Linked DNA regions of Homo sapiens. The protein of the gene in region 4 purifies or fractionates together with the protein of the main gene of each other region. This does not show direct contact. Each region holds a gene or a part of one and is shown on either strand. Other genes may lie near its edges. The genes, in order: ARPC5L, RAI14, SERPINB12, RNF38, MYO1C, BLMH and TGFBRAP1.

Evidence for each region.
Region 1: the proteins of RNF38 (region 4) and ARPC5L purify together in Homo sapiens (affinity purification with mass spectrometry, with the first as the bait; one study listed by BioGRID). This does not show direct contact.
Region 2: the proteins of RNF38 (region 4) and RAI14 purify together in Homo sapiens (affinity purification with mass spectrometry, with the first as the bait; one study listed by BioGRID). This does not show direct contact.
Region 3: the proteins of RNF38 (region 4) and SERPINB12 purify together in Homo sapiens (affinity purification with mass spectrometry, with the first as the bait; one study listed by BioGRID). This does not show direct contact.
Region 5: the proteins of RNF38 (region 4) and MYO1C purify together in Homo sapiens (affinity purification with mass spectrometry, with the first as the bait; one study listed by BioGRID). This does not show direct contact.
Region 6: the proteins of RNF38 (region 4) and BLMH purify together in Homo sapiens (affinity purification with mass spectrometry, with the first as the bait; one study listed by BioGRID). This does not show direct contact.
Region 7: the proteins of RNF38 (region 4) and TGFBRAP1 purify together in Homo sapiens (affinity purification with mass spectrometry, with the first as the bait; one large-scale study listed by BioGRID). This does not show direct contact.

Annotation. Positions count from the first base shown.
Region 1 is NC_000009.12:124,871,930-124,875,849, reverse strand, and holds part of ARPC5L (actin-related protein 2/3 complex subunit 5-like protein), read right to left. Parts: exon of another isoform or gene 2,184-3,920; coding exon of another isoform or gene 2,164-2,183; exon of another isoform or gene 2,159-2,163; coding exon 2,086-2,158; intron 876-2,085; coding exon 699-875; intron 1-698. UniProt on the Homo sapiens protein: May function as component of the Arp2/3 complex which is involved in regulation of actin polymerization and together with an activating nucleation-promoting factor (NPF) mediates the formation of branched actin networks.
Region 2 is NC_000005.10:34,823,233-34,827,600, reverse strand, and holds part of RAI14 (ankycorbin), read right to left. Parts: coding exon 3,110-4,368; intron 1,272-3,109; coding exon 1,122-1,271; intron 1-1,121. UniProt on the Homo sapiens protein: Plays a role in actin regulation at the ectoplasmic specialization, a type of cell junction specific to testis. Important for establishment of sperm polarity and normal spermatid adhesion.
Region 3 is NC_000018.10:63,544,973-63,549,340, reverse strand, and holds part of SERPINB12 (serpin B12), read right to left. Parts: intron 3,715-4,368; exon of another isoform or gene 3,611-3,714; coding exon of another isoform or gene 3,608-3,610; intron 2,441-3,607; exon of another isoform or gene 2,392-2,440; intron 1-2,391. UniProt on the Homo sapiens protein: Inhibits trypsin and plasmin, but not thrombin, coagulation factor Xa, or urokinase-type plasminogen activator. May play a role in cell differentiation.
Region 4 is NC_000009.12:36,393,248-36,397,615, forward strand, and holds part of RNF38 (E3 ubiquitin-protein ligase RNF38), read right to left. Parts: intron 2,241-4,368; exon of another isoform or gene 2,157-2,240; intron 368-2,156; exon of another isoform or gene 314-367; intron 1-313. UniProt on the Homo sapiens protein: Acts as an E3 ubiquitin-protein ligase able to ubiquitinate p53/TP53 which promotes its relocalization to discrete foci associated with PML nuclear bodies. Exhibits preference for UBE2D2 as a E2 enzyme.
Region 5 is NC_000017.11:1,485,697-1,490,064, forward strand, and holds part of MYO1C (unconventional myosin-Ic), read right to left. Parts: intron 1,977-4,368; exon of another isoform or gene 1,960-1,976; intron 1,534-1,959; exon of another isoform or gene 1,515-1,533; intron 1,436-1,514; exon of another isoform or gene 1,256-1,435; intron 436-1,255; exon of another isoform or gene 359-435; intron 65-358; exon of another isoform or gene 16-64; coding exon of another isoform or gene 1-15.
Region 6 is NC_000017.11:30,267,077-30,271,444, forward strand, and holds part of BLMH (bleomycin hydrolase), read right to left. Parts: intron 4,313-4,368; coding exon 4,195-4,312; intron 1-4,194. UniProt on the Homo sapiens protein: The normal physiological role of BLM hydrolase is unknown, but it catalyzes the inactivation of the antitumor drug BLM (a glycopeptide) by hydrolyzing the carboxamide bond of its B-aminoalaninamide moiety thus protecting normal and malignant cells from BLM toxicity.
Region 7 is NC_000002.12:105,273,806-105,278,173, forward strand, and holds part of TGFBRAP1 (transforming growth factor-beta receptor-associated protein 1), read right to left. Parts: intron 3,867-4,368; coding exon 3,809-3,866; intron 1,899-3,808; coding exon 1,755-1,898; intron 1-1,754. UniProt on the Homo sapiens protein: Plays a role in the TGF-beta/activin signaling pathway. It associates with inactive heteromeric TGF-beta and activin receptor complexes, mainly through the type II receptor, and is released upon activation of signaling.

The DNA.
Region 1 (3,920 bases), about 88 Mb from region 4:
CACTGAGCCTCTGAGGAAGGCAGGCAGGTTAGTAACTCCTGGTCTGCTTTAATGGTGGGCGTGCTTACTGCGGCACTAGGGGTGTGCAGGGGAGGGTGTGGGAGGCAGCCCCAGTGGTACAGGCACGACACAGGCTTGCCAAAGGCCTTGCTCTCACACGGACCCAAGCGAAGGGCAGACACAGCTCTTTCTGCTTCACCTGGACGAAGGCCATATTAAGTGAGGTCAAGGTTTCTGCCCACTGCTCACTCTGGCCTGCTAAGGCTGAGGCCAGGGCAGGAAGCCCTTAGAGCTGGCTGGAGGACTCTATTTCTAAGAACCCCCAACAGCTGCCTCCACCACTGCAAGTATCATGAAGCCCCAACCAACCAGCAGGCCCCCTTCCTACCTAGACTCCCTGACCACCTTACTATGCCATGTTATCTGCCCACATGTCCTGTACCAAGGGCACCCTGTCTTGCCTGACATAAATCGGCAGCTAAAAAGCAAAAAAGTAACTGCAATTACCACAGACAGCAGGTCCCTACCAGGAGCTTCCTTGGGAGAGGGAAGTGATGACATGTCCCAGGTTGGGGCTCGTCCTCTGACCCCACACGCCTATCAGACCGTCCTACGTTTGTTCTGGAAAATCTGGCCTGCTGATCGAACCCCAAGGCAAGCCAGGTGGCTCACTGGGGCGCGTGGCAGCGTTCACATACCTTTTCGTGCCACTGGAGTAACACTGCGCTGCTATTTTCTGTGGGCTTCTCAAAGCCTTTATAAATGTACTTCATTAACAAGTCAACGCCGTTTCTGTCCAGTGACTGCACAGCCTGCTCAATCTCACTGCTCTTGAAGTTTGTGAGCACTTTCAGCACCACGCCCTGGGCTCGCTCCTGCAGACGAAAAAGAGCAAGTGAGTCCCAGAGCTGCGAAGGCACCGCCATGCCATGCCCCACACCAAAGCAAGGACACAGATCACCAGAAACACTGCCCAGTTTCTAATTCGTCCAGGATGGTTAAAATAAGTGGGTTAGAACGTCTTTTGTGGATTTAAATTTCAAAGTATCTTTTATTTATGCCAACAAGTTACCCTACTTATTTTGGGGGAGTAAGTAGTTTACTAGGACAAGTATCAACTCTGAGAGAGAGAGAGAGAGAGAAGAGAAAAGAGGGAGAGAGGGAGGGAGGGGCAGGGTCTCGCTCTGTTGCCTGAGCTAGAGTGCAGTGGTGCAATCTCAGCTCACTGCAGCCTCTCCCAGGCTCAAGCAATCCTCCCACCTCAGTTAGGGCTACAGGCACATGCCACCATGCCCAGCTAATTATTTTTTTTATTTTTTAATACAGACAAAGTCTCGCTATGTTGCCCAGGCTGGTCTCAAACTCCTGAGCTCAAGCGATCCTCCTGCCTCCCAAAGTGCTGGGATTACAGGCATAAACCATGGCACCCAGCCCATCACTATTTTAGATGACACCAATAAGGCCTTATTATACTCCACAATGGTGGTGGACTATTAAAAAATAAAAATAAAACCAGGTTGACTCGGCTGCAGCGTCCCTCTTGTGTTCACACCCAGAAGGGTGGGGCCATTCCCCAGAACTCTGTGAAGGTGCAGCCACTGGTGACATCAAGATGCTGTCACAGCTGCCAGAATCCCAGCTGCAGGGAGACCCCTTTCTCTGAACCAAATTTTAGACTTGGTGATGCAGTAAGCACAATTTAGTTTTTAGAAGGTAGGAAAGCGTACGGGTACTTAAAATCCTCAGGCAGACAAAGCCTATTTAACAGTCTGTGGGAGCATAAGCACCACAGGTGAGCGAATTCATCCATTTTCCTCATCAGCCAGGGCCAGGCTGACTTCTCAGCCTACGAGGCCGTGAGCAGGAGTGAAGGCTTCTGTGGGGAGGTTCTCGTATATAAACGCTGACAGCGTTGATGTCAGAGAAGCCTCACCACCTAGGGAGCGCCAGGAGGCTTCCCTGGAAGCCCCGCCCAGTGCCAACTCACTCCCTCTGATGTGGATGAAAGCTCACACTCGCACTGGGCAGACACCCACAGCCCTGGTCCCAACAGCACCCAGCAGAGCCGCAGCGCCACCCCTTTACCTTCACAGCTTGATTCTTGGTGTTGACGGGAGAGTTCCGCAAGGCTGCATGGAATGCCCGAAGCATGTCCCCTGTGCATCACCACCAGTTAAGGATAGCTAGGCTCAAGCACATCCATGCCGTCATGAACAAGCTCACTTCAGAAACAGCTCAGGAACAGAGTCAGATGGGATCTCATCCATACCACCCACCTTCCACGGCTTCCAGGGGGGCAGAGACGGTTTACAGCCTGCACAGGGAGGCTGCAGGGCACCTCTGCCAACCATGCAAACCCTCCTTTCAACTCCCTCTCTACCTTCCACGTCAAAGCAACTGTCCTGGAGGGGTAACTTGATGTAAAATTGGATTGTGCTCACTTGCACCTGCTTGGTGCTGAGCACTGTATCTCCCCTACTGGATCCTCACAGCACCCGTACATGTGAACTGGAGGTCGTTCTCATCTTCTCATTCTAAAAAAGCGGAAAATGTAGGTACAAAGGGAGACCTCCTAACTCTTCATCAATGCTCTTCATCAATTAAACTATTAAGGAAATTAAGATGTGCTAGAACTTCTAAGATCTATCGGGATCAATGAGGTCCCAACTGTTACCTGGAAAGAGTTTATCAATCTAACAGAAGCTTTTGCCAACAATGAGCCAGTCTCCACCCTTACCCCCCAACCTCAGTTGCAATCCTGACAACACATTCTTTGCTGAGTTCTGAATACCCAGCATGCAAAAGAAAATTACAATCTGGGTTAGGTCCCCAAAGGTGACACCTATTTTAAACTGAATTACATCAGCCAACTTTCATTTCCTCGTATGAAACACTGGCTTCAGCCAAAAAGCTTCAAAAATAGAACAAGGAATGGCTTCTGCCCAATCGGGTCTCTACTCCTCTTCATGCAGTGATACCCACGTGCAGACAGGAAGGGCCTTCGGAGCAGAGCTGAATCTCCTGGCTTCCCCAGTATGAGATCCATCTTGAGTGAGCTGGGTCTGCGCCACCAGGCAAGCCACTCCCAGCGCTGGTTCCCCAGCTCCCTGCTTGGCTCTGATCCACCTTCCACACTCAAGAGGCAGTCCAGTCCCTCTGTCTTTCAGTTCTGGAGTTCCTTTTCCCCATCCAAACAAGGCCAGCCTGATATCAGCCACTGATAACCTCTACTTTGTAACTCCTTTTTTTTTTTGAGACGGAGTCTCGCTCTGTCGCCCAGGCTGGAGTGCAGTGGCGCAATATTGCCTCACTGCAAGCTCCGCCTCCCAGGTTCATGCCATTCTCCTGCCTCAGCCTCCTGAGTAGCTGGGACGACAGGCGCCCGCCAGCACGCCCAGCTAATTTTTTTTGTATTTTTAGTAGAGGCGGGGTTTCACTGTGTTAGCCAGGATGGTCTCGATCTCCTGACCTCGTGATCTGTCCGCCTCGGCCTCCCCAAAGTGCTGGGATTACAGGTGTGAGCCACCGCGCCCAGCCCTTGTAACTCTTTTCTAATGTGGTGTCCCCAAAGCAATAAGCAGGATCCCATAGGCTGAACAGAAAACATAGGCTCACTTGCTCTTCATGTAAACCTGGCACAACTAACAAATGACATCATTCAAATGATGGATGGGGAAGGGCAGGTATAAAACTAGTCCACGGGGGCAAAAAGCTACTGCTGTGGCGTTAACTCAGCACCACGCGTCCAGCAATCACTCGGCCCATTGATGGGTGAGGGCCTTCAGCAGTTGGGAGATGTGGGGCGCAGGGAGGACCTCCCTGAAGTCACCTATCATTTGTGAAGCCGGCTGTCATACTTGGCTGGCTTTAGGCCTTTTCAGAGAACAGGCTGTGGTGCTGAGGGAATCCTGCCCAGCCCT
Region 2 (4,368 bases), on a different chromosome or scaffold from region 4:
CTTTGTGGCCAGCCAGAGTAAGGACTGCAGAAACCTGAATTCACTACAGTTAGGTCTATTCCGAAGAAATCATCAAATCCATGTTCTGTTTGTATATGGAAGCTAGAGACAGTCCAGGACAGACTAACCCTGGACTTTAGGTAGAAAACGGAATGTACCCATGCCAACTCAAACCTTAACAGATATTGTGGTAAGCTAAATAATGGCTCTTGAAAGATGTCCACATCCTAATCCCCAGAACCTGTGAATGTTAAACTTTATATGGCAAAAGGCATCTTGCAGATGAAATTAAGGGTTTGAGATGGAGAGGGAGATTATCGTGGATTATCTAGGTGGGCTTTAGATGTAATCACAAGAGCCCTTATAAGAGGGAGGCAAGAAAATCAAAGGCTGAAGGAGGAGATGGGAAGACTGAGCAGATGCTGGAGTGATGTGCCTCGAAGATGGAGTAAGGGGCCATGAGCCACAGAATGCAGGCAGCCTCTGGTACTGGAAAAGGCAAGGAAATTGATTTTCTCCTATGGTCTCGAGGAGGAACCAGCCCTGCCAACAACTTGAAGTTAGTCCAGTGAAAGTGATTTTGGAATTCAGTTCAATGCAACTGTAAAATAATACACTCATGTTGTTTTAAACCAAATTTGTGGTGATTTGTTACAATGGACCCAGGAAACAAATTTAGATAAGCAAGGGCTTTCCTGGGTGAAATAAGGAGAGGGGCCAAGAAGCAGCTTCAGATATATAGAGATGCAACTACTAGAGATCCTGGCCCCTAACAAGAAAAAGCTCTTGCCACTGCCAGAGATGGGGAAAGACTGTTGCAGAAAAAGGAGAAGGGGTAAAAAGTTAGGGTATGAGTGAGCACATAGCCTCCTCCTACTGTCCTGTCGGTTCTTTCCTTCCCAGTGAATATCTGACCCGTTGCATTGCTGATAACGACCAGGAATTCCACCAGTGGCTCCCTCTTTTGCCCTCACTGAAGAAATCAGTCAACTGCTCATTGAAGTACATTCCTTTGGGCTGGGAATCTTTTTGTTCACGCCCACTTGCCCTAGCAGCTGAGATGGTAGGAAATCTGCCAGGCCCTCCACCCCAAACCAGGCAGCAGAAACAAGCCCACTCACCGCCAGCTGGTTCTGGAGCTGTTTGACTTGCTGCTGCAGCGCCTCCAGCTGCTGACTCTGCCTTTTGGATGAGCTTGTTGAGTAGGAGAGCTGGGAGAGGCTGTTCAAGGCCTCCTTCAATTTGGTGACTTCCTTCGACATCTCATTTATCTAGGGGCAAAGGAAAATGGTATTAGCAGACAGTAACATGTCTACAAAGCAAAATTTCATATATTTGTAAGCCTCAAACATAGTCATCTCTTTTGGCCTCTGGGACTTAAGACTTTGGAACAATTCCTTTTTAATACATTTAAATTAAAAAACTCATAAAATGAAATGGATGACAAAATCAGGCAAACTAACAAAGCCCGCTACATCCATTAGGTTCAGATAAAGGCCCTTGAATTACATATTATGTTTTGGTGATGGCGGTAACAAAAGCTGTGATGTTGGTTTCCTACTTTTACTCTTAAAATGGGTATGATTGAAAAAAAAAATCAGAATTAGGATTTCCGCTTTTATTTGGAGACAGCTATATTTTGTCCAATACTGCTGACATGGGTGATCAGGAATAAGGTCTAGGAAGCCTGATATCTCTGGACGTCTTTCTTTAAAGTAAACACAACTAACTCCTCACCGTACCCCACCACTCCCTAATCCCTGTTCCCCTGGATGATAAAGCTCTTTTGAAACACTCATTACAAAAGAATAAAGACAAGTAGTCTCTCATGAATGCTATTCGGAACCTCCGAGACAGGGGACTAGAGATGCAGAGCCGATTGAGGCGTGGAACCATCCCCCTGAACTTCCCCTTTGCTTCCCTCCTTCCTCCAGCAGCACGGCCAGCACCATCTCTTGTGTCCAGCGCCATCTCAAATTGCCGGCTCCCCACATTCCTCCCCCTTCCTCTCCTATATACCTGTCAAAGGAGGGACCGGCGAGGGTAGCTTTTACAGTGACTTGAGGGGAAGCTCATGGACCTTAGGGAAACAGGATTAAGTCTAGGAGTATTTTAGTTTCATATTATGGAGGAATCTGTTCTGAATCCAAAAAAAGAACCTGAAGTTTGAGGTGGATCACAAATACTTTCCAGTTTGCAGGTTCACTTCTGATCCCCAATACTGGCAAAGCTTCTGTAAAATGATTTTTAAAGGACAGATATATGAAAATGCTTTAGTATAAGGAGAAGTGGCCGAAGATTGATGTTTGCTTATTGATTATTTTTTGAGGCAGGGTCTCACTCTGTTGCCCAGGCTAGAATGCAGTGGTGTTGATATGGCTCATGACAGTCTTGACTTGTAGGGCTCTAGTGATTTTCCTGCCTTAGCCTCTCAAGTGGCTGGGACTACATGCTCATACCACCATGCCTGGCTAATTTTTAAATTTTTTGTACAGATGGGGTCTCACTATATTGCTGAGGCTGGTCTCAAGCCATCCTCCCATCATGGCCTCCCAAACTGCTGGAATTAGAGGAGTGAGCCACTATGCCCAGCAGATGTGTTTTTAAAATACAAATACCCAATAAACTATTCTTTTTTTTTTTTTTTTTTTTTTGAGATGAAGTCTGTTCACTCTGTTGCCCAGGCTGGAGTGCAGTGGCCTGATCTTGGCTCACTGCAACCTCCACCTCCTGGGTTCAAGCCATTCTCCTGCCTCAGCCTCCCTTGTAGCTGGGATTACAGGCGTGTGCCACCACGCCCAGCTAATTTTTGTATTTTTAGTAGAGACGTGGTTTCACCATGTTGGCCAGGCTGGTCTTGAACTCCTGACCTCAAGTGATCCACCCACCTCGGCCTCCCAAAGTGCTGGGATTATAAGCGTGAGCCACCACGTCCGGCCGACCCAACAAACTATTCTTAATGTGGCTTTGGTGACAGATAAAGTTCATGTGCAGAGCCTCTGAGCATTCACTCCAGTTTAGTGCCAACACTAGAAATATTTAATATAGTAAAAGCCAAAGAGACTAAGACTTATTGCTAGAAACCCAACAGCAATACAGTTTCACCAACCTTTTTATCTTTATCTTCCTCCAGTTTTGAAGAGCTCTCAGCGTATCTTTTCATTTCTGCAAGTTCTTCCTGAGCTTGCTGGAATTTTTGCAGAAGTTCATTTACTTCTTGCTCTTTGGATTTCAAGAGAGTCTGAATATTTTCCTTTTCTCTTTTCACCTGTGAGACCTCACTTCTAATCTGGACAACCTCTGAATGGACCTTCTCTTTCTCTTTCACAGATTCCTTTAATTTCGATGCCAACACACTCACTTCACTCTCTAAGGATGACTGGAGTTTTTCATAGGAAGACCGAGGTACCATTGCATCAGTCATAGCAGCTTTCTCTTCTAAGAGTTGTTTCTCCAGCTTTGCTACTTCCACTTCCTTGCTTGCAAGGTGTTCCTTAAGATTGCTTATTTTTTCTTCCATCTCTTTTGCTGCAGTCCGCAGCGTGGTTATCACTTGCAAATGTTCTGTGATAGAGACAGAGTTCTCTTTTTGTGCATCCACCAGTTGTTTGAGCTGGGTCAACTCATTCAACACTTTTGAATACTGAGACTTCATTTCAGACAGTGCATCTTCTGCTTTAGCCCTGGACACGTTTGTCAATTGCATCAGTTTCTCATGCTCTGCTTTATGGATATATTCAGCTGTGACATCCTCTAGAGATTTCCTCTTCCTGTAATCCTCCAGCTCAGCCTGGGCTTCTTTGTACAGCTGTGACAGCTCGCTCACCTGTTTATTGAGTTCATCTATCATCCTATTCATGGCTTCTTTCATGTCCTCAGCTTCATCACTGGCTTCCTGTGTCATCTGACTTTTTAGTGTGTCTTTTAATTTCATGATTTCTTCTTGGGCTTCTTGGTATTTCTCAAACAAAAATGCTTTCTCCTTATTCATATTCTCAATAACAGAGCAATATGAACTTTTCATTTCCTCGTACTCTTCCACAGGTGGCTTAATCACTGTACCTTTCTCCCTCTCTACCAGTTTTTCCTCTAACTCTCTCACTTTCTCTTTATTTCTTTCACTTTCTTCTAATGCATTCTGCAGATCCTGCTTTAGCACATTTATTTCCTCTTCCGTGACCCTCAGCTCGTGGAAATGTGAATAATTATCCATGCTTTCAGGTGAGACAAGACCGAGTTTCATCTGCTTCTGCACACTAAGGACTTCTTTCATAGCCTCCTCGTATTTGCTCTGAGTTTCTTTAAGTTTCTGGCTGAGGTCAGAGCTGTTCTCTGAAATCTCAGTGTTGTTTAAGCATACCAGTTCTG
Region 3 (4,368 bases), on a different chromosome or scaffold from region 4:
GAAGTAGAAGAAGGAATTTTATTCTCAAGGTCTAATTTGTTATACAGATGGCAGAATAATAGTAATGAGGAATTTTGCCCTCACAATACTGAAAAATAAATCGCCTTTATTTTTCCGTGTGCTTTCCAATCTCTCAATCACTGCATTGATGTGTGTGTACGTGCCTGTTTATATGAACATTTTATGTTCACTTGTTTTCACTTCAAATTGCATCTTAAGTGTTTATCCTAATACTGTCTTCATAGATGTTCTTTTAATGGCCTTATAATATCTCATTATACTGACTTATCTAAATGTTTAAACTAACATCATATTGCTAGATACTTAAATTAGCTTCCCAGTTTTTATTAATATGAATAATTCTACGATAAACATTGTCATAAATATAGCTTTTATCTCCCTTCATATTATTTCTTCAGAGTATCTTCTTCAACATGGGATTTCTAGGTCAAATATTATAAAGATTTTTAACTTTCATACTGTCAGCCAAAAGTTACAGATGAAACTGCTATATCATAATCACCTTTTTCAGATATTATTGCCATTCTTAATAACTTAAAAAATAAAAAGAAAATTGTATTATTTTTAAATTTACATGGCATTGATACTTGCTAACATTTGAATGTTTCTCCATGTGTTCTTTTCTCTTTATAAATTCTCACATATTAACTGTCTCTTGTTCATCTTTCAATTATCTATTGAGGTCTTGATCATTTATTTATGGATCATTATGAACTCTTCATATTATATAAACATTTTATGTTTTTCAAACTTGTTCTTTAAAAAAATTTCCCCTGTTTTACCTTCCTTTATTTTCTTTATTGTTATTATAGAATTGTTTTTACTCTTATTTACTGAAAATTGTCAATATTTTCTGGCACTCTCTTCTATCACTTCAAAACCTTGAGGGTAATGTATTTTCAACTTAATTTTAAAACCTCATCTACTTTCAATTTTTTACAAGAAAGAAAATCTTTCCTGTAAGATTTTAACTTACATTGTTAGCTTTGAAGATACATTTTTAAATACTGACTATCTGAAATGTGTAACATTTTTAATTTTTTAAAGGTATTTTTTTCCATTTTTATGGTGTTTGAGGTATCAACAAATGATCTATTTTGCTTGTTTTCTTTCCTTCTGGCTTTGTTACACACGTAAAACCTTCTTCCACTTTCCTCCAACCTCTCCCTCTAAAGAGTTAATTAGTCACCACTGTATACAATAACCATACAACATTTGTTTCCCTTAACTCCTCTATCACACTGTAAGGTAATTATTTTTTATACTGATGTCTTTACTTCCAAATCATAATTGTCTTGAAGGTAGGTTCAGTGTTTTTAATTCATCCTTGTACCCATCCGTGAAGAACACAATGGTAGCACATGAGAACCCTTCATAATATTTATGGATTGATTTGCTGTCATCTGCCCATTTTTCATTGTAGATAATCCTAATGTTTGAAATGTTAGAAGACTATTTAGCATTTCATATTAACTTTATATATCCTGCAGGAAGCTGTAATTAACAGAGATTCTGCATAAGAGAATCAGCTTTTTATTAATTTTTTACTATATAAGAAAAAGTTCACTTACTGCAATATAAAAAAAATTCATTTACTGTATAAGAAAAAGTTCATTTATTACAATTTTCCCTTATAGTAAAAATGTAAAGGTTTAGACAAGATAGACATTCTAACAACCCAAAATATTCTGAGTAAAACTGTTTTTTCCTATATATAGTAGGAAGAAAAATATTTATACTCCAAAAATATTTCATGTCTTATAATTTCTATAATTCCCACAAAGCTACTAACAACTCAAGAATGAAATTCAAACTTTACACAAATAGATGCTATTCTGCTGGAACAAATATTCAAACCAGGTTACAGCAAACTAAATAATAACCAATATCTAAAAACAAAGAAATACTTGTGAACAATACCATCGAAAGTGTTTTCCAACTTATGGTGCAAAAAAAAAAAATCTAACTCACATTGTTTAAAATATAGATATTCTAAATATTATACCATCTTATGTTTCAGAAATAATTCATTAAAAGATAAAATACAATATGTCAAGTATGTGAAAGTTTAAAAAGTTATTCAAACATCTACATTTTAAAAAAATCAATCATATACATCAGGCATCTGACCAGGTGGTTGGGGCTGAGCGAGGTGACAAGCATTGTTAATATCTCCCAGTGATGACTGCCACATCTGCAGAAAATCCAAAACATCATAAAACTAACTCACTTTTTTTAAGTATTTGACTTAATAAAAACAAGTATATCCTTCTATTTCAATCACATCTCCTCTGGGTTTCTATCCTTTAAAATGGTTTTCCAATTCAGTGTTCATTGTTAAAAATTATATCAGGCAATTCGAGCATTTACCTTCTTGCCCTCAGAGTTGCTGCTAACAGCTGGTCAGGTAAGCTTCCCTCCACACCCTGTCGGGAATGGAAATATATCAACTTTGCCCCTCCCTCTGTGGAACTTTTCCAGTGCCATTTTGGAATCCAGAGTAAAATCATCATTGATAGATTAAAGGGAAAAGAAAAGAGTGGCATATATTTTTAAAACAAATGCTATGCTTTTAACTACATTGAATATTTAACTTAATATGCTTATATTTTCTTTGCTCTTTCCAATTTTATAGAGCCCTCAAAGCAATACTTGGCTCACACTTTTCAATTCAAATTTCTATACTAGAAGACCATGAAGCAGAAATGTATTTTACTTCATATACACATTGTCTTAGATGATTTCTTATATTTGAATTTTTGCATTATTCTAAAATCTTTCTAAGTTATTACATAGGATTTGCAAAATGTGCTCTAAGCTACTTCAAAGTTTTTGCTTTCCTGCAGTAGGTGTGTGGTAGGGATGAGAATTATTATTTGATTATTGACACACATATTTTACAACTGAAAACACAAAACTTTTTAAACTTAGCCAAAGCATGTTCTGATGTTACTTTTGGTTCTAGCACTCTACAATCGTGTTATGTTACTGACTGTAAACATGAGGGTCAGTGGATAGGGCAAAAAGTGTGGAGCAACTAGGAGAAAGCTAGGAAGAGTCAAACTCCAGGAACTGACATGTCTTAAGGACAAACGAGGACCCCTCTCTGACCTGGTTCTCCTACTGAGCCCTTTATCTTCCTTTTCTAACTTGTTGTCAGACAACAATATTATCTGAACCATGACCCTACAAATACATTAGGTGTAGAGAAATTCAAAGGAAAACTTTCTAAAATGGAGAGATGGCCTTTATGGAAAATATAAACTACTTATGTAGCTAGTGTATAAATAAAACAAGTTTTATAAGATATTGACCAGTGGAAATTAATGACTAAGCATCCAGAGTTTTTCTGAATTATCAATAGTAAGCATAGAAAAGAAACGTGCTGTTAGTTTTCTTTACTCCTTGATCATTTGAAAATAATTATTTTTTTTTCTAAATTCTTCCACAAAATTCTAAAAACCAGTCTAGTCATTGGTTATGATTTGCAAGAGTTTGGAAAATTTTAACACGTGAATTATTTAATATTTTATGTCATTGATTACTACTTCATGTTGCCCATCATAGCCTTTCCAAAAGGGTATACCATTCATATTCAGAACAGGATGAGTTCTTGCCTGGCTTCCTGGAAGTAGGTGTCACATCTGTTACTGTTGGGGGATAATATTCAAATTTCACTGGGCTTCTGGGTACCTGAGAAGAGTATAAACTTGTTTGAATGTCTTTAATCTAGATTTGCATCTGTTTATCCTCTTAAATAATTCAACAAAGATCTAACTACAGATGACTGTGCCCTACAAGCCTAAAAATTTGGTGTGGTGCGATTGCTCAATGAGCGAAGATGAAATCTGACACTAAATGTAGCTAAACATTAAGGTAGCTTGATAAATCACTAACAAGGGGATGAGAATTTCTTGAGCACTTACTAAATGTCAAGCTGCATTTGGTACTTTACACATGTAATATATCACTGAATGGCTGAAGAAAGCGAGCCTCTCTAGTACCCGTGACTTCAAGTGCCAGAGAATTACACTAGGGTTTGAAAGAAATTTGGAGGTCAACTAGCCTGACAGTGCTATTCAAGGCAAGCTAAAAAAAAAAAAAAATAGTTCTATGTCAACAGGCCGTAAAAATAATGTTTACTTCATCAAGTATAGAGCTAGATGATTCCTCCTAGGTATGTTACAACTCAGCAAGAATTATGAGCCAATCAATAAATCTTTCAGCAATTAGCCTTTTTCTGCCTAGAATTAAAAATTTAAGGAGGCCAGAATGATTCAGCAATCAAAGTCTTTGCCAGTTTATGATGCAAAATGATATGATTAATATTCCCCTACTGATAAAGGC
Region 4 (4,368 bases):
CAAATGAAAAACTGGCCAACCTGGTCCCTGTGGCCATAATTTTCAAGCATATCCTCTCCTACTCACAACAGTTTCCTTTGATCAGAGGCTCCATTTGTCTTAAAAAGGATGGACCAATATAATGGAGAAAAGCTATATTCAAAATAAGTCTGGGACAAAACCATAGATGGGCTTGATTAAAATGAGGTACAATTTTTACTACTAGGTAAAATAAAATCACACACACACATTGTGTGTGTGTGTGTGTGTGTGTGTGTGTGTGTGTGTGTGTGTGTGGGGCAGGCAGTCCCATACATAGGTTGCCCAAGATTACCTCTGGTGTCCATCTCCTGTACAACCCCCTTCCCCATGTGCGCAGGCAGGGCTGTGAATGTGATGTATTTCATTCCCATTATTAGGTTAAATCATATGACAAAGGAGGAAAGACGTTCAGATGTAATGAAGATTCCAAGTAAGGTGAATTCAAGCTAAAGACAGATTATCCTGGGTGAGCCTGGGCATGACTTAATCAGAGAAAGCAGAACTGAGTCCTTCCCAAGAGATTCTCTTGCCAATTCTTCAGACTAAGATGTTGTGAGAAGGCATGCGAAAGGTACCATGTGGCAGGGGCTTGAGGGCAGCTTCTAGGAGCTGAAAGCAGTCACCAGTTGACGACCAGCAAGAAATGGGGGACCTCAGTCCTATAATCACAAGAACCACATTCTACCAGTGAACTTGGAAGGAGACACGGATGAAATCACAGCTCTGGGCCGGGTACAGTGGCTCACGCCTGTAATCCCAGCACTTTGGGAGGCCGAGGCGGGCAGATCACAAGGTCAAGAGATAGAGACCAACCTGGCCAACATGATGAAACCCCATCTCTACTAAAAATACAAAAATTAGCTGGGCGTGGTGGCGCACACCTGTAGTCCCAGCTACTTGGGAGGCTGAGGCAGGAGAATCACTTGAATCCGGGAGGTGGAGGTTGCAGTGAGCCAAGATCGTGCCACTGCACTCCAGCCTGGCGACAGAGCAAGACTGTCTCAAAAAAAAAAAGAAAAGAAAGAAATCACAGCTCCTGCAAGGTAAGACCCTGGGGGCCCAGCAGCTAACCCCATACCAGGACTCCTGATTCATGGAAATTGTAAGGAAATATTTGTGTTTTAAACAAATAAATTTGTAGTAATTTGTTACAGAAAACACAATGTGTATGTATATAACTTGAATAAAAATTATTGTACCACAGTGAAAAAGTTTCTTCTCCAGAATTTTGGCTACACTGATTTGATTACAAAAGATATAAAAATTAACACATTTTTATTTAAGCAGTATAGCAGGTTTTAAAGCCTCAATCTGGTAACAGCTAGCTTCATGCCAGAAACTGAACTGGGCTCTCCCATCTTTATACACTGAACATCAGGTTTAACAGACTTGCTTAAAGTCACATACCTCAGAAATATCAAAACCATAATCTGAACTCAAGTCTATCGAATTCTAAGGTTCATACTCAACCCACAAAACCACCTTCTACTTTAAAGTAACATTCTTTTTTATAATCTAGTTTGATTAGTAAGTATCAACTATTCCACCAGGCCTATTTAAAACCATTTTTAGTACTTAAAAATAAACTTGTTTCCTGAAAACTGATATAATTTTTCTCTAGGCTGGCAACTTTTCAGCATTACAGATTTGCTAACTCTGGCTTTCTCCCAGAATGCAACCTGTATTTAAAAAGTCCTGCCAAGGAAACATCCTGAGACCACATTAAGTCTGCAACTCCCAAAACTTATCATGTTTAATGTCTATTTCCATATAATCATATGACTAATTCATTAAGCATAACTAAGAAAACCCTATTTCACAAAACTAAAGTTTACAGAAAACAGTTTAACCTTTTAAGCATCAACACTACTATTTTAGGACATCCTTTGTTTAATCTGGCCATTCTGTGTTTTGGTAACATAACCAACAATTTAACTTTTCTTGGAGACTTGCAGGTATTATTAGTAATTATCGCACTAAAATTAGCACTTAGGACAAGACACTGTCCCAAAACATTTAAAATTGCTTCTGACAACAGCATCCTTCTTCGTTCATTTCCTTTTTTTTTTTTCTCCAGTAAAAGTGAGAGAGAGGATACAGGTACATGACTTCTAAGCCAGTATGACATAACGTACTTCTACAAAATAAGGTGTTCACGAAGGCCCACAAAGCATTCTTCAGCATACCAACTGGTCGGTCAAAAGCACTAAAATCACAGCCTAATATAAAAGACGAAAACAAAACATTAGATGAGGAGTCAGGTGCTTAGTGTCACCTCTAGCTACAAGTCTGGTTATCTGTAAAATAAAGTCAAATCCAAAACTCCAAATATTCTCACCACTTCCATGATAGCAACTGTTAATCTCTTGGAAGTAATTAGGTAGATTAATAATTTAAAAAACATGTTTGAATCTCTAATATTTAAACTGACAAATTATCAGGTTATATACCAAAATACGAGAAAAGCCATATGCATGAATATGGTCACCACAGCACAATAATAGCGACAATTTAAAAGGTAACTAGAAGCAACCTAAATGTTTAACAAATACTTGCTAAGTAAAATTACGGTACACTTGCTTGAACTATGCAGCCATTAAAAAGTAGCAACCAGAAACACTACTACTTGGGGGAGGAGAAAATTATTTAAATGCTATGATCATAAGGTAGGGTTATATATGAACAGGACTTCATAAATTCAAGAAAAAAGTTATCTTGGAATATTAGGAAGAAAAACAGAGAACTCCCTATAAAGATTAAATAGAGCAGCCAAATCAATGAGGTGACTTGAGCATACACTCAGGAGAACATGTATAAGCTCCATGTCCTGTTCAGCACAATGTCACTAACACCTAGAAGAGTACATGGCACATAGCAGGCATTCAACTATTTATTAAAAGAATAATCTTCCAAACTGTAAGCAAATGATGTAACAGCCTGCCTTTCTGATTTGTGTAACAAGTTTCTTAGAAATCTGGTTGGCAATGAGACAAGCTAAAAGCTTTGATCAAGGAAGAGATCTGATGCACTCACCTGCAGGTTACCATTAAATGAAGTCAGTGGTTGCCCAGTAAGTCCACCCCATCCTACTGAGGCAGAATAAATCATTGAGCTACTGATGCATGCTGTGCTCCTTGCTAGGATTTTTTTTTTTCCCTGTTCTGAGAATAAACTAGACCTAAATGTCACCTTTCCTTTGAGAAGAGTTCTATCACTGGGCCTAAAACAAATCTGTTTCCTTGGCTTTTGTTTTCTGGGAGCAGAGTTCTCTGAAAGGATTTTGACAGTGTGGAGCAGGGGTACTCAAAGTCCCGGATGGCATTCTTCAAAGCTGGTCCAGGAGAGAACACTGCAAACAGGAATGGGACTGTGCACGCTTAGAGTTATGCAAAAGGCAGGCCTGGATGGGCACAGGGATCTTTGGGGGATGACAGAAATGTTCAAAATGTAACCAAAAAAATCTAATTGAATGGAGTGAATTTTATGGTATATAAAACATAACTTAATAAAGCTTCTTTAAAAAAAAAAATCGAGAGCCTGGTTCTGGAAAACTGAGGTCCAAACACTGGGTAGAACTGACCCTCTGAGATGTTACTACCCTTTGAGATCCAAGACAAAATTTCTAAGTCATTCATCTCTAAGCTTCAACAGTTCTCATACACAAATGACACATGAAAAAGACTGAAAGGAATAAAAAAAAAATCATTCTCTCACTACACAACGGTCACAATTTGCTTTATATATGTGTGTGTGTGTGTATATACGTATATACGTATATACACATGTATATATACGTATATATATGTGTGTGTGTATATATATATATATATGTTTTGTTTTTTTTTTTTTGAGACAGAGCTTTGCTCTTGTTGCCCAGGGTGGAGTGCAGTGGCGCAATCCTGACTCGCACAATCCTGACTCACTGCAGTCTTCACCTCCTGGGTTCAAGCAATTCTCCTGCTTCAGCCTCCAGAGTAGCGGATTACAGGTGCTGGTCACCACACCCGACTAATTTTTTTATTTTTAGTAGAGACAGGATTTCATCATATTATTCAGGCTGGTTTCAAACTCCTGACCTCAGGTGATCCACCAACCTCGGCCTCCCAAAGTGCTGGGATTACAGGCGTGAGCTAAAAAATAATTTAAAAATAATTTTGAAAAGCTAATAGGCAGTATTAGGAGAAACCATTCAAGGACTGGTACTATGTGGGTGAGGATGTTCATTACTGCCCAGCACCGGACAATCATTTCTAAACAGAAATTATGGTTCCCACTCTTGAGTTAGGCAAACAAACAGGACCCATCTCTTTCTGAGAGCACAGCAGAAATAGGGTGTGTGAAAACAGC
Region 5 (4,368 bases), on a different chromosome or scaffold from region 4:
CGCCCGGTAGCGCATCCTGCCCGGCCGGCCTGGCGCCCGCTCCGCTGCCCGCGCTCCGGGTCCCGGGCTCGGCGGCGGTGGCGGCGGCGTCAGCGAGGGAGGGCCCGCCCCCCGCACCGCCCCCACCCGGGCCCCTGAAGCGCGGGGCTTCCCCGGCCTCCCCCGCCTCCCGCGCGGCCGGGCTGGGGTCCCCTCCAGGTGGGGTTGGTGGAGGTGGGGGTGTCGGGGCGGGGGGTCCGCGGGCCGGGGGCGGGGGCGGGCTCCGCCTGAGTCAGGTTTTCCAGGAGGGACGCCGTTGGCACCAGGGTGGAGCCCGGAACCCGCGCGGCCGCCGCGTCTACACCGACCCGGAACTCACTTCCGGGCCTGGGACTACACTCCGCGGCGGGCCTGGGCGCTGGGCGGGCACCGAGGCCTGCGGGTCCCAGAGGAAGCGGGATTTTCCTCCCCCAACCCCCGAACTCGAGTCCCGGGAAAGTTAAAAATAGAACCAATGTCCAAATACGGCCGGCGCGCCCGGCGGGCGGAGCGTTCTCCGTGCGGGACGCCGTCCACCCACACGCGCCGGGGCCTGGTCCGAGCCTCGAACCCAGGAAGATCTTGGTTTTCCTCGTCAGCACGGAGCTCGCGCCCCAGGGACAGGGACGGCCAACGGGTGCCCTGGCCGAGCGCGCGGAGTACCCGGCCCCTCTGGAGGGCTCAGTTCCCCCTCTGGGAAATTCGCGTCCCCCCCGCCCACGGCATTTGGGGCCCACAGCCTCTCCCCACCCGGGACACCCCACTCGCCTCTGGGCCCGGACCTCCTCCCTCCCTCCTTTTTTTTTCTGTTTTTTTTTTGAGACGGGGTCTTGCGCTGGCTCCCAGGTTGGAGTTCAGTGGCGCGATCTCGGCTCACTGCAACCTCTGCCTCCCGGGTTCTAGCGATTTTCCTGTCTCAGCCTCCCGAGTAGCTGGGATTACAGGCGTGCGCCACCACACTCGGCTAATTTTTGTATTTTTAGTAGAGACGGGGTTTTACCATGTTGGCCAAGCTGGTCTGGAACTCCTGACCTCAGGTGATCCACCCGCCTCGGCCTCCCAAAGTGCTGGGATTCCAGGCGTGAGCCATCGCGCCCGGCCCATCTCCCTCCCTGCTTTGAAGGGGGCCTCCCTAGTCCCTCCGGATCTCCGGGACGCCCCCCACCTCCGAAGCGGCCTCGGCAGAACCTCCCTCGCTTGGCTCTGCGGGCACCACCCTCCCTCGCCTGGGGCGAACCTTGGCTCAGATCCCACCGCGGGCAGGGGCGGGGACGTCTAGAGTCTGCAAAAGGCTGGGCTGGTTCTTCCTCGCGGTGGGACTCTGAGCAAGTCACTTAACGTTTCGGCTTCTGTTCTTCATCCCTAACATGAGGCTAACACAGGCCTAGAAGGGCCGTTGGGTGGCCTGAGATAGAGCGTGAAGGCACCTCCAGACCCCCTATAGACCTCGCTGCCCCCACCCGCCGCCTTCCCTCGGCCGGACGCTCATTTCTCACTTGCTTGCGGGCAGAGGCCTACTGAGAGCCAGGCCGTGGGCCACGCTTCCGATCCGGTGGGGAGAGCCTCAGGCGCGTCTGCAGGCACCTGCCTCCTCCACCAACACAACGGCGTACACAGACTCGCCCTGGTGGGGTTAGGCAGAGCGGGAACCCAAAGCCCCAGCGCCCCACCCCCAGCTCGCGGACCCCGCTCCCTGGGGAGAGGGCGAGGCTGCGGCAGGTGCGGGCCGGATCCTTGCGGGGAAGGCTCGTCACTGCAACAACCCGGCCGGAGCGGCGGCCCTGGGGACCCCCGAGCGGGGGCACCAGCTGGTGGGGGAGTGGGAGCGGGGGAGGGGGAATGGCGGCGTCTCGGACAGAGGCGGGGGAGGGCGGGAGGAGACGCCCGCTGCGGTGCCCCCAGGTTTAAAATCTAGAGGGAGGGCCGGGCGCGGTGGCTCACGCCTGTAATCCCAGCGCTTTCGGAGGCCGAGGCGGGCGGATCATCAGAGTTCAGGAGTTCGAGACCAGCCTGACCAGCATGGCGAAACCCCCTCTCTGCTAGAAAATACAAAAATTAGCTGAGCGTGGTGGTGGGCGCCTGTGTAATCCCAGCTGCTCGGGAGGCTGAGGCACGAGAATCGCTTGAACCCGGGAGACGGAGGTTGCAGTGAGCCGAGATTGTGCCACTGCACTCCAGCCTGGGCGACAGAGCGAAGCTCCGTCTCCAAACAAAACAGAACAAGGAAAATCTAGAGGGAGCAAGGAGGCGACCCAGCCTCCAGCCCGCCCAGGGGTGGGGAACGTCCTAGAAGACGGGGTAGAGGGTCAAGAGAGCCCCTCCCGGAAGCTCAGCTCTCTCCCTGCCCCGCGAGGCGTGGGGGACTCGGGCCGGGGGCGTGGCAGGAGCCAGCGGGGGCGCGGCCAGAGGACGGGGCGGAGCTTCGCGGCCGCAGTGTCCGCCCCGCCCCTCCACGTCACGCGGTTGGAATGAGGGGAATCCGCGCGCGGAGGGGTCGGGCCCGCTTCTTCCAGTTCCCGGGCCGCGCCGCCGCATTCCCGGGATGCCCGCTGGCGCCCCCGCAGCCACCGCCCGGCGGCGGAAGGAGGGGGCGTCTCCGCCGCTCGCGGGCCCCAGGGCGGCTCCAGCACTGGCAACCCCCGGCCTGCCCCTCCTCACTGGACGGAAGCGCGAGCCCCGGGCGGGGAGGGAAGCGGGGAACCTGGGTGGGAAAGACGCCGCGGCTGAGGCTGCAGCGCCAGGCGCCTCCTGCGTTCTCCGCGCTTTCTTGGGTTACTCCTTTCAGTGACGCCAGCCAAGCCGTGAGGTCCGTATCATCACTCCAATGCAGAAGAACTTGAGGCTGGGCAGGTGACTTGTGCAAGGTCTCAGGAGGAGTGGGACTGGAACCCGGGCACTGGAACACCTTACTGCAGGGCTGCCCTGAGCCTCTTTGTGCGGTTATCAGGGCTACCAGGGCTGTGACCTTCAGTGACACCGTTCAGGCCCCTGTCGGTGTCGTGTGATTCTATTATGTCACATGTGGGCTTTAGGAGTGGGCCAGGGCCTTTGGCTCTGGGCCTAGAGGTTCCCTGCAGGCCATGGCCCCTGAGTGACATAGGAGACTTCTTCCCCAAGGCTGCCTCTGGGTCTTCTCCCACCTGGGGAGGCATTTACTGGAACCACAGGGGATGGGGTGGCCCAGCAGACCTGGGCTATCTAGTGCCCTTCAGCTCCTATAGGCCAGGTGCCTACAAGCCTGACTTCTGCGGACAGCGGAAAGCTCAAATGTTCCCCCAGCCTAAGGGCACACAGATCTTGCCATGGGGTAGGGGTGTTGGGGGCTGGGAGGAGGTGTCATCTGAGGCACCCGGGACTGCTGCTATAAACCGATGTCCACTGAGCCCAAGGCAGCAGAAAGGCAGCCACAGCTTGTCTCACGGGTGGCACAGAGCAGGGCTTCAACTTCTGTTTATTAAACAAATCTTAGATCTGGGCCTGGCTGCCCACCAAGGACCGTTCCAGACCTCAGGGAATTGTTGTGAAGGGAAATGGGGAGGAGATAGTGGCGACTTAGGGTCTCTACCCTGATTGCTCACAGGGCCTTGGTCAAGGACTGTCCATTCTAGCTACACAACCATGGATCTTTGGCTGCCAGACACCTCTGCCTGGGGGGTCCAGCAAACGTGAACAGAGGCAAGGTGCAGTGAGTGGCTCACACCTGTAACCCCAGAACTTTGAGAGGCCGAGGTGGGAGGATCGCTTGAGGCCAGGAGTTCAAGACCAGCCTGGGCCACATAGTGGTGAGACCCCTGCCTCCACTAAAATTTTTTTAAAAAGTTAGCCAGGCATGGTGTGTGCCTGTGGTCCCAGCTACTTGGAAGGCTAAGGTGGGAGGATTGCTTGAGCCCAAGAGGTTGAGGCTGCAGTGAGCTGTGATGGTGCTACTGCACTCCAGCCTGGGTACCCCAGAAGACCCAGTGTCAAACAAACAAAGAAACAAAGCAATAAACCCATAACATGTTAACATAAATTTGTATGGGGGAAAAAAAAAAGTAAACGGCCCAGGAGCGGTGGCTCATGCCTGTAATCCCAGCACTTTGGGAGGCCAAGGCAGGCAAGATCACTTGAGGTCAGGAGTTCCAGACCAGCCTGGCCCACATGGTGAAACCCTGTTTCAACTAAAAATACAAAAAATTAGCAGGGTGTGGTGGCACACGCTTGTAATCCCAGCTACTTGGGAGGCTGAGACAGGAGAACTGCTTGAATCCTGGAGGAAGAGGTTGCAGAGAGCTGAGATCATGCCACTGCACTCCAGACTGAGTGACAGAGACACTGTCTCAAAAAAAAAAAAAAAAAAAGAGGGCCTTT
Region 6 (4,368 bases), on a different chromosome or scaffold from region 4:
TCTATACAGGCAGCCTGCTCTAAACAGTACTTGGTCAGGGCTATATATTTCCTACGATCACTAAAGGGATACTCCAGTAGAAATGGAATTTGAATCTCTTGGGGTAAAAACATAATAAACTAACAAAGCAATAAATACTATTTCATCCTTTCTATTCTATTGTATACATAAAATAGGCATGTAAAAATGCTACTTGACTAAGAAAAACTATATTAACCTACTAAAAGCAGTAAACATTTGAAGCTGGGGATTCTTGCTTTTAATCAATCAATATTGATTAAAGCAAATGCATCCTACTTTATTTTAGGAATAATTCTAAAACCTGGTCAGAGTCTTTTTTAAACAAAACAAAACAAACTCATCATACTGCCTGATTTTCTACTTGGGGAAACCAAATAATGATACTCTCCCAAATGCATTCTTTTACTGATCCAGTTACACAAATATTGAATTTCAAAGAAGAGACTGAATGGCAAAGCAAAAGTAAAAAGACCATTTTCATAAACAAAAGCCAGGCACTTCTACTGTTCTCCTTCTTCCATCTTCATTATTAAAATAAGCTCAATTTTGGTCTTCTTAAAGGGACAGTGATACTCATCACAACAACCTTCATTTACAGCCTTTACTATAGTGACACAGAGAGGGACAAGAGGAAGGCTCCATTTGGGAAAAGACTTTTTTCTTTCATGTTTACCCAGGACATTTACTGATGTCAAGGCAACTTAAATCTTTGTAGCATGAGAAGAGCACTCACCCCTGTATTATCGCCTAATGATTTCATCTGTCAACTCCCACTTGCAAATAACTATATGATGAGTCTCATCTATATGGGATTTGGTTCTCTTTGGCTCTGCTAACCCAAACACTCCACTCTTGGCAGTTTTCTTGGATCTCAGTAATTTTCTGTCTCACAAATAGCGCCAACAAACTCACAAGTTTCACACACCCTTACCTGTACTAATCCTTACTCTTTGCCCCCAAATCCTTTAAAACCATATCGTTATATACTATACATTCTGCAGCTGGCATATTATATGTCTGTTTTGGTTTTCTATTCCTCCCACTGTAGTCCAACTTTACTTTCCTTTTAAATATCACTGTTAGAATCGATGTCACCTAAAGTGATATAGTTACTTGTTACTCTAAGTCTGAAAATGTTTCCTATGTTTTCCCCTTGGCCAATGAATTCCTGGAGTGACCTAGATCAAATTGTTCTCTGGGTCATCTACAATTACAAAATGATTAATACCTGGAACTCCCTTATAGGGATTCCATGATATCAGCAACAAAAGAAAGAAAATTGTGGAAATATAACCACTAGTATGCATTTACCTCTGTACTATTACTCAAGTGTAGTTCAAACTCGTTTTTGGGATCAAAAACTCTAGTGGAATGAAGAGAAAATGTTCAATATAAAATTCCAGGTATAATAATATAAATTCTGCTTTATACCATTAGCATGTAAGGTAGCTCCATTTTCCTAAGGAAACAACCCATGCTAATCAAAGAATGGAAGTTCCCAAGAAAATGACAGTGGTATTCATTATTTTTATTCCTGAAAAATAGGAGTATTCTATAACAGAGATAGAAATGATAAAAAGCTGAATTTTTCTTGGAAATTACAAGTTTTTGTTTGTTTGTTTTTTTAAAAACAAACAAACAAACAAAACAAATTCTCGGCTGGGCACAGTGGCTCATGCCTGTAATCCCAGCACTTTGGGAGGCCGAAGCAGGTGGATTGCTTGAGGTCAGGAGTTCAAGACCAGCCTGGCCAACATGGCGAAACCCTATCTCTACTAAAAATACAAAAAAAAAAAAAAAAAAATTAGCCAGGCCGATGGTGCACGCCTGCACTCAGGAGGCTGAGGCAGGAGAATAGCTTGAACCCAGGAGGTGGAGGTTGCAGTGAGCTGAGATTGTGCCACTGCACTCCAGCCTGGGCGACAGAGCAAGACTCAGTCTCAAAAAAAACAAAAAAACAACAACAAAAAAACACAAAACAGAACTCTATATAGTTTAAAAATTTATTTAAAGAACTTTAGTTTAGTTATAAAGCACCCTTATTTGAAAAACCTTTTCATGTATTTTATTTATTTATTTATTGTTTTTTTTTTTTTTTGAGACAGAGTCTTGCTCTGTCACCCAGGCTGGAGTGCAGTGGTGCAATCTTGTCTCACTGCAACCTCCGCTTCCCGGGTTCAAAGGATTCTCCTGCCTCAGCCTCCAGAGTAGCTGCTGGAATTACAGGTGCACGCCACCATGCCCAGCTAATTTTTGTATTTTTAGTGGAGACAGGGTCTCGCCATGTCGGTCAGGCTAGTCCTGAACTCCTGACCTCAGGTGATCCTCCCGCCTCAGCCTCCCAAAGTGCTGGGATTTCAGGTGTGAGTCACTGCACCCGGTCTAAAATTCCTTTTATAACCTAACTTTATGTTTTGTTTATAATTCAAATGTGAGAATTTTGTTAAATTGGGGTGATAACACTTAAATCACCTTTTGCTGTTTTAAAATGACTTTTCTTGATCTACATAAGTAATGCAAATTATACTCCACACATTCTCCTGGGTAACCCTAAAAACCTGTTTCTTGGTGTGGGAGTCTCGCTAACTACAGAGCTGAGATTACTGACGAATGGAATAATGAGGAAAACAGCTCGCTGGTTTACAAGACCTCAACCTTTACATTTATTTATGAAAACTACATGAGGATCAGGAGTATCAGCATTAAGACTGCCTCTTAAGTTCAGGGCACCTTTACACCATACTGTGTTTGATCTCATATAAAACTGAGAATACCTCAGAGTTCTACTACTTAAAGCACTAGCCTTATAATTTGCAGGAATGTAATTAAACCTTTAAGACCAAGTTTTGAATACAGAGAGAGCACAGGGATCTTAGATGCTGTGGGGTTGAAAGGGCACCCTTCAAGTGAAGTAGTTGGAAGAGGTGAGAAAAAGGTACAGAAAGAAAACCCCATCCCACTCACAATTCTGCATAGAGTATAAAAAGCAAATCAGGACTTTTAGATAGGCTAGTTAGGAAAATGTGGCATAATGATATGCTAAGATATTTCTAAACATTTTAAAGATCATAAATCTAGTGGATAGGATAGCAAAAACAATTCTCTATCAAACCATTTTCTAGCTGGGTGCGGTGGCTCATGCCTGTAATCCCAGCACTTTGGGAAGCTGAGGCGGGCAGATCACCTGAGGTCAGGAGTTCGAGACCAGCCTGGCCAACATGGCAAAACCCCACTTCTACTAAAAATACAAAAAAATCAGCTGGGTGTGTTGGCGGGCACTTGTAATCCCAGCTACTCGCAAGGCTGAGGCAGGAGAATCTTTTGAGCCCCAGAGGTGGAGGTTGCAGTGAGCTGAGATCACACTACAGCACTCCTGCCTGGATGACAGAGTGAGACTCCATCTCAAAAAAAAAAAAAAAAAATGATTTTCTAGAACAATTTATATAAGGTAGTTATTCTGTGACTTTCCAGGAATTAGGCTAGAAAGAATATTTTTGCTTGTGGTGGTAAAGAATTAAAGTAGTTCAAGTTCTTCCTTCCTGATGATCCTGAGCACAGAGGTGAAAATATCTATTTTTACTGACTGGAAGTGAGGAGTTTATTTGTGAAAGATAAAATTTCAGTTGTTTCCAACTCTATAACCTATAAAAAGTGGTATTACTATACACACTATTTCACAGGAAATTCAAAATACTTTACATCCAATTTCCTGAAGCTCTGCATATAACTAGAAATGGGTATGGAGTCCACAAATTACTGTTATTGACATTTTACTGCAAAAGAATCTGAATGACAAATGAAGGGAAATCTGAACATAGGTCATCAAGATATGAACACTTTCAGGGCACATTTTGATTCCTTATAAAGTAGAAGTTATCTTCTCTCAAGTTCCCTTGCTGACTTCTCTTTAAACCATGACCTTCCAAAGTTACAGAAACAGTTACTTGGTCGCTCCCTGCTGACCCAAATTCTCCTCATAGAAAGTTCCTATTTTTATATTACCTCTAAGCACGCAGCCAAGCCCCAAGTGACGCAGGTACGATGTCTTACTTGGAAACTAACTTTTAACAGAAATCATATACACTATGAATGAAGCTTTGTTGGGTAAACAGTCTACAGGAGAATGTAGATCCATCTGTGCAAACACTCCAGCAGGCATGCTGAGGGTCATACCTTCTCTGAGACAGCAGTGAAGGTCATGGCGTGGGTCATAAGTGACTCACCAAAAGTCAGCCTCTCCGCTTTATTCATGTTCTTCAAGGAGACACCAAACACTAACTCATGGTCATAGCTGTAAAAAGAATGATAGTACAAAATAAAGGGAGTACGATCATGGGGAAAACTGGC
Region 7 (4,368 bases), on a different chromosome or scaffold from region 4:
AAATTATTATGTATGCACAGCTTTTTGTATGTCAATCATATCTCAATACAGTGGCTTAAAAAATATAATTATGGAGAAAAACAGCCCAGCATGAAGCACTGTCAAAGGCCAGAGGGCAAAAAATCAAGATAGAAAAGCCAGCCTATACCCTGAAGTCCTCCTCACACACCCCATGCAAATTGGAAACTGAAGAACAAAGCATTTACTGGTGACAGATTTTGACAACCTATAATAATAACATTAAGATCATCCAAGAACAGGGATAGCCAGTTGCAGAACAGTATGTGAAAAGATATCAAAAGTGCTGAAATTTCTGTACAGTAAACTCACTTCTCTGAACATGGATTATCTACTCTGGGTTATTTATGATAGATGGTTAATCTGAGATCTGAGCTTCCAGTCCCTGAGTAAGTTTCCGGGCTGCCTTCCTGTGTCCATCAAGTGGAGGCACTGGTCCAATCCTCTGGTTCAAGGAAAGGACAGTGAGGCAGGCAGGAAAGCAGCTCTCCACTGCACCTCCCCTGAGCACTTACATGTGGGAGGTTCTATCATGTGCACGCACACACGCACCTCCCCCCTCCAAGGCCAATACATTCACGTATCATGTATTATGGTATGAATTTTGGATTCTATAAGCCTGGATTTGTGTCCCAGCTCTACCAACTATAGCCTCAGTTTCCTCATCTGTAGCTAATGCCCACTGAGGGGCTGCTATGATGTTTAAGCGATGACCTTTGTCAGGGGATTGTCCACCGTGCAGTATCTGCTGTTATCATCCATAAGCATTGGGAGAAGCCTAAACCTTGCAACGGCACTGAGATCCATGTTGTAGGTGTGTGTGAGCAGGTCAGGATGTGCTCTGCAGGCGTGTGCACAGAGGCAAAGTAAAGATGGAGAAACAAGTATGCAAAGTGCAAGTGCCTGGCTCTGATTTTCCAGGGAAGCCAGCACCACGGAGGATATGAGAATATATTCCAACTCAGGTCTTAGAAAGGCAGATGCAGCACTCAGAAACTCTCCATTCAGGACCAACGTCCTGCATCAGAAAGCTCATTTTGTCTCTCCAAGGGGAGCCATGGAAGCGTATACGTTTTTCACGATGAGAACTGAAATGCTTGCTGTCTTCTTCCCAGTCACCTGTGGTCACCTGTGGGGCTTTACTAAGGATACTGTCCTGAGCCTGCTACCTTCCCTCTAGCCAACAGGTGCTTTTTCACTGCCAGCATTTCTCAGCCTCCAGGACAGGCCGAGTCTTGCTCATGGCTCCCCTCCCTCCTCCAGGCCCACAAGCTCCATGTTGGCAGTGGTGGGAGCAGGGATGAGGGCCCAGTGTGGCCCAGGTCTGGGTGCTTCCTCCTCCCAAAGATCAAGTCCTTCAGGGCAACCACCTAATCCTGCTCCAGAAAACAGCAGTGTCAGACTTCTGAGGGGTCGAGGAGCGGGGTTCACAGACACAAGTTCTTAAGAAGATGCTAAAAATGCAAGCTGGCTATGTCTTGCTTTTCTATACAAGTGACTTGCCCCAGCAAGGGGATTCTCAATGGAATGTCTCAGCAGCAAGATGCAGAACTGCCCTAGAGCTAGAATCCAGAGAGCTCAAGGGAAGGTATTAAAAGGGGAATAATAACAACAACAAAAAACAGAGGAGGAGGTTGAAATGTAGCTTTCTTTTCCCCTCCTAAAAGCAAAGCTTTTGGGGTCTGTTTTTACCACCTCCCCCAACCAAAGAGAATGCATTTTTACGAAGCACAAACCTCTTCACTTTTCTGCAGGACCCAATCAGCATAGGCCCACACTAGTTCCTCGTCTAAGCAGTAGGTAAGAAAATCCACGATGTATTCATACAGGTCTGAGCGTGTGGAGTCCTGGACATCGCCATTCACAATGTTCACCCACAACTGGAAAGGAATCAAAAAGAAAAAAAGAAAAAGAAAAGAAAAAACAATCATAAAGGCACATATCTCAGAATTAGTTGAGAAATGGCATATGTTTACTTATTTGGCTTTTTAATACCTTTTAAAGTAGTTGGAAAAACTGTAAATGCTTAAATTTTAGTTTTTTTGGAGAAATAAAGAAATGTAAAAAGACATAGTCCAAGAAATAAAAAAAAAAATTAAGCTCTAGGTTCTTTTATCTTTCTTTCTTTTTTTAACAATAACACAGTAAACAGAATATATGCAGGGAGGTGAATATATTAAAAATGTTTCTTCATGAAATAAAGAAAACGGTCACTGATAACATCTCGACACAGAGAAGATTCACCTACAACCATCAGCCAGGCTCTGTTTCCATCTTCTCCGTCACAGACATTCTTGATTTTGAAGTCCCCTTTGGACTGTGATAGGCAGATGTTGTGCTTTTACAAAAGCTTCAGTGATTCTGTCCCCTGAGTTCACACTGCCTTTTGCACAGGGGGCTCAGGATAGACTCCAGTGATAAAAGCCTTTTGCTTTTTCAGCCAGAAACTTCCCTACCATGTTAAGTGAAGCCTACTTTCAGGACCCCAGAATGAGGCAGCATCACTTGGGGGTAGAAAGGATGACGGTTGCGTGGGTTCCTTCTGCAATACCTGCATGGCGTGCCTCACCCACCCATACACAGCACCACCCCTCCAAGCCACAGCACCAGGAAGGAGCCCAGAAACAGGGGTGGCATATGAATTCTGGAATTCTGATGTCAGCATACGAACATTTTTTATGATACTAGTTTCTTCAACACAGAATTGCTGAAACCAAATAATCACACATACCTTGAAATATGCCATTTTATATAAAATTCTACCACGTATGGAGATTTATCCCATATCACTTCAAGTTTGCAAATCTATCTCTCTACAGCTCTGCTAAAGTTATTACTATACTTATATAAAGCTGTAACTGAGAACACCAGGTTTTTGAAAATGAAAATTTTATCACTGACACCCAAATCTACTCTTGGCCATTGGGTACGTGTTAATTCACCCAACTCCATTTTTTGTTGTTGTTGTTGTTCTGCTCTGCAATCAGGTTACCACAATAGTCTCACAAAGCAATCAAACACTAAATACATGTTCAGCCTTGCCAGAGTCATGAGGTTAACTTTAGCTTGGGGAACATGGCTGATGCTCTTGGCCCCTCACAAAATAAAGCAAAAAGGCACATCAGGAAACAACACGGTGCAGTACAAATGCATAACTAATAACGAAGGGGAGAAAGTCTCCCCCTGAGAGTGTGAGATGAGGCTTTTCTCAAGATCAGTAGCAAGATGTAAGATACAAAATGTGACAATGCTAATAAATCGATGCCATTTTGATTAGGGTGCAGGACCCCTGCCAGGCCAATGGAGCGCGGTTCAGATCCCAGATCTACCACGGACACATGGCCTCGGGCAAGCAACTGGCATGCATCAGCTTTGGTTTTGTCACAGGTGACACAAGGATAATAATGTACCCAGCTCATTGGCAACAGTGATCATCACTAACAGTGGAAATGGTAAATCCGACTATCATTCACTGCCTAAATTTTCTGATAAGGGTAGTGATATATTATGACTTGGAACTCTGTGAGATCATATTTTCATTTCTTAAGTTTTCAAAAACTCAGTCTTGATAATGTTCTTTAAGGAGATGGAAAGACAATGAGAAGAAAACTCTTGGCCAACATTTCTCCAGGAATTCACTTTCTAAAACAGAATCATTTTTATTCTGTATAAAAGGGTGTAGATCAGGCAAAAGTGGTCTCTATCAACTTGTGAATTTTTTTTAAGTAACACTAAGTATTACTTACATGGTGCTGATTTTTAAATCATGTGGAAACCCTTCTAGACTCACCTGAACTGCAGCAGCATCTTGGTTATTATAATGATAGAGCAGTCCAAGTGCAAAATACCTGAAACAGAACAACACGGTAAGTACAACCTCTCCCCATCAGCTCCTGGAGGCGACCTTCACACAGTGACACCCCCAGTCCAAGCTCCCCATATTCTATTCAACTCGAGTTCAGGCTCATGCCTGTAATCCCAACACTTTGGAAGGCCAAGGTGGGTGGATGGCTTGAGCCCAGGAGTTTGAGACCAGCCTGGGCAACAACATAGTGAGATCTTGTCTTTATTAAAATATTTTTAAAAATTAGCCAGGTGTGGGGCACACATCTGTAGTCCCAGATACTTGGGGTGCTGAGGTAGAAGGATCACTTGAGCCCATAAAGTTAAGACTGCAGTGAGCCCTGATTGTGCCACTGCACTCCAGCCCGGGTGACGGAGTGAGACCCTGTCTCAAAAAATATATGTGTGTGTGTGTGTGTGTGTGTGTGTGTGTGTGTGTGTGTGTGTAGTTCAACAACAACAAACAAACAACCAAAGGATTCTCATTGCTGTATATTTACTTATGGT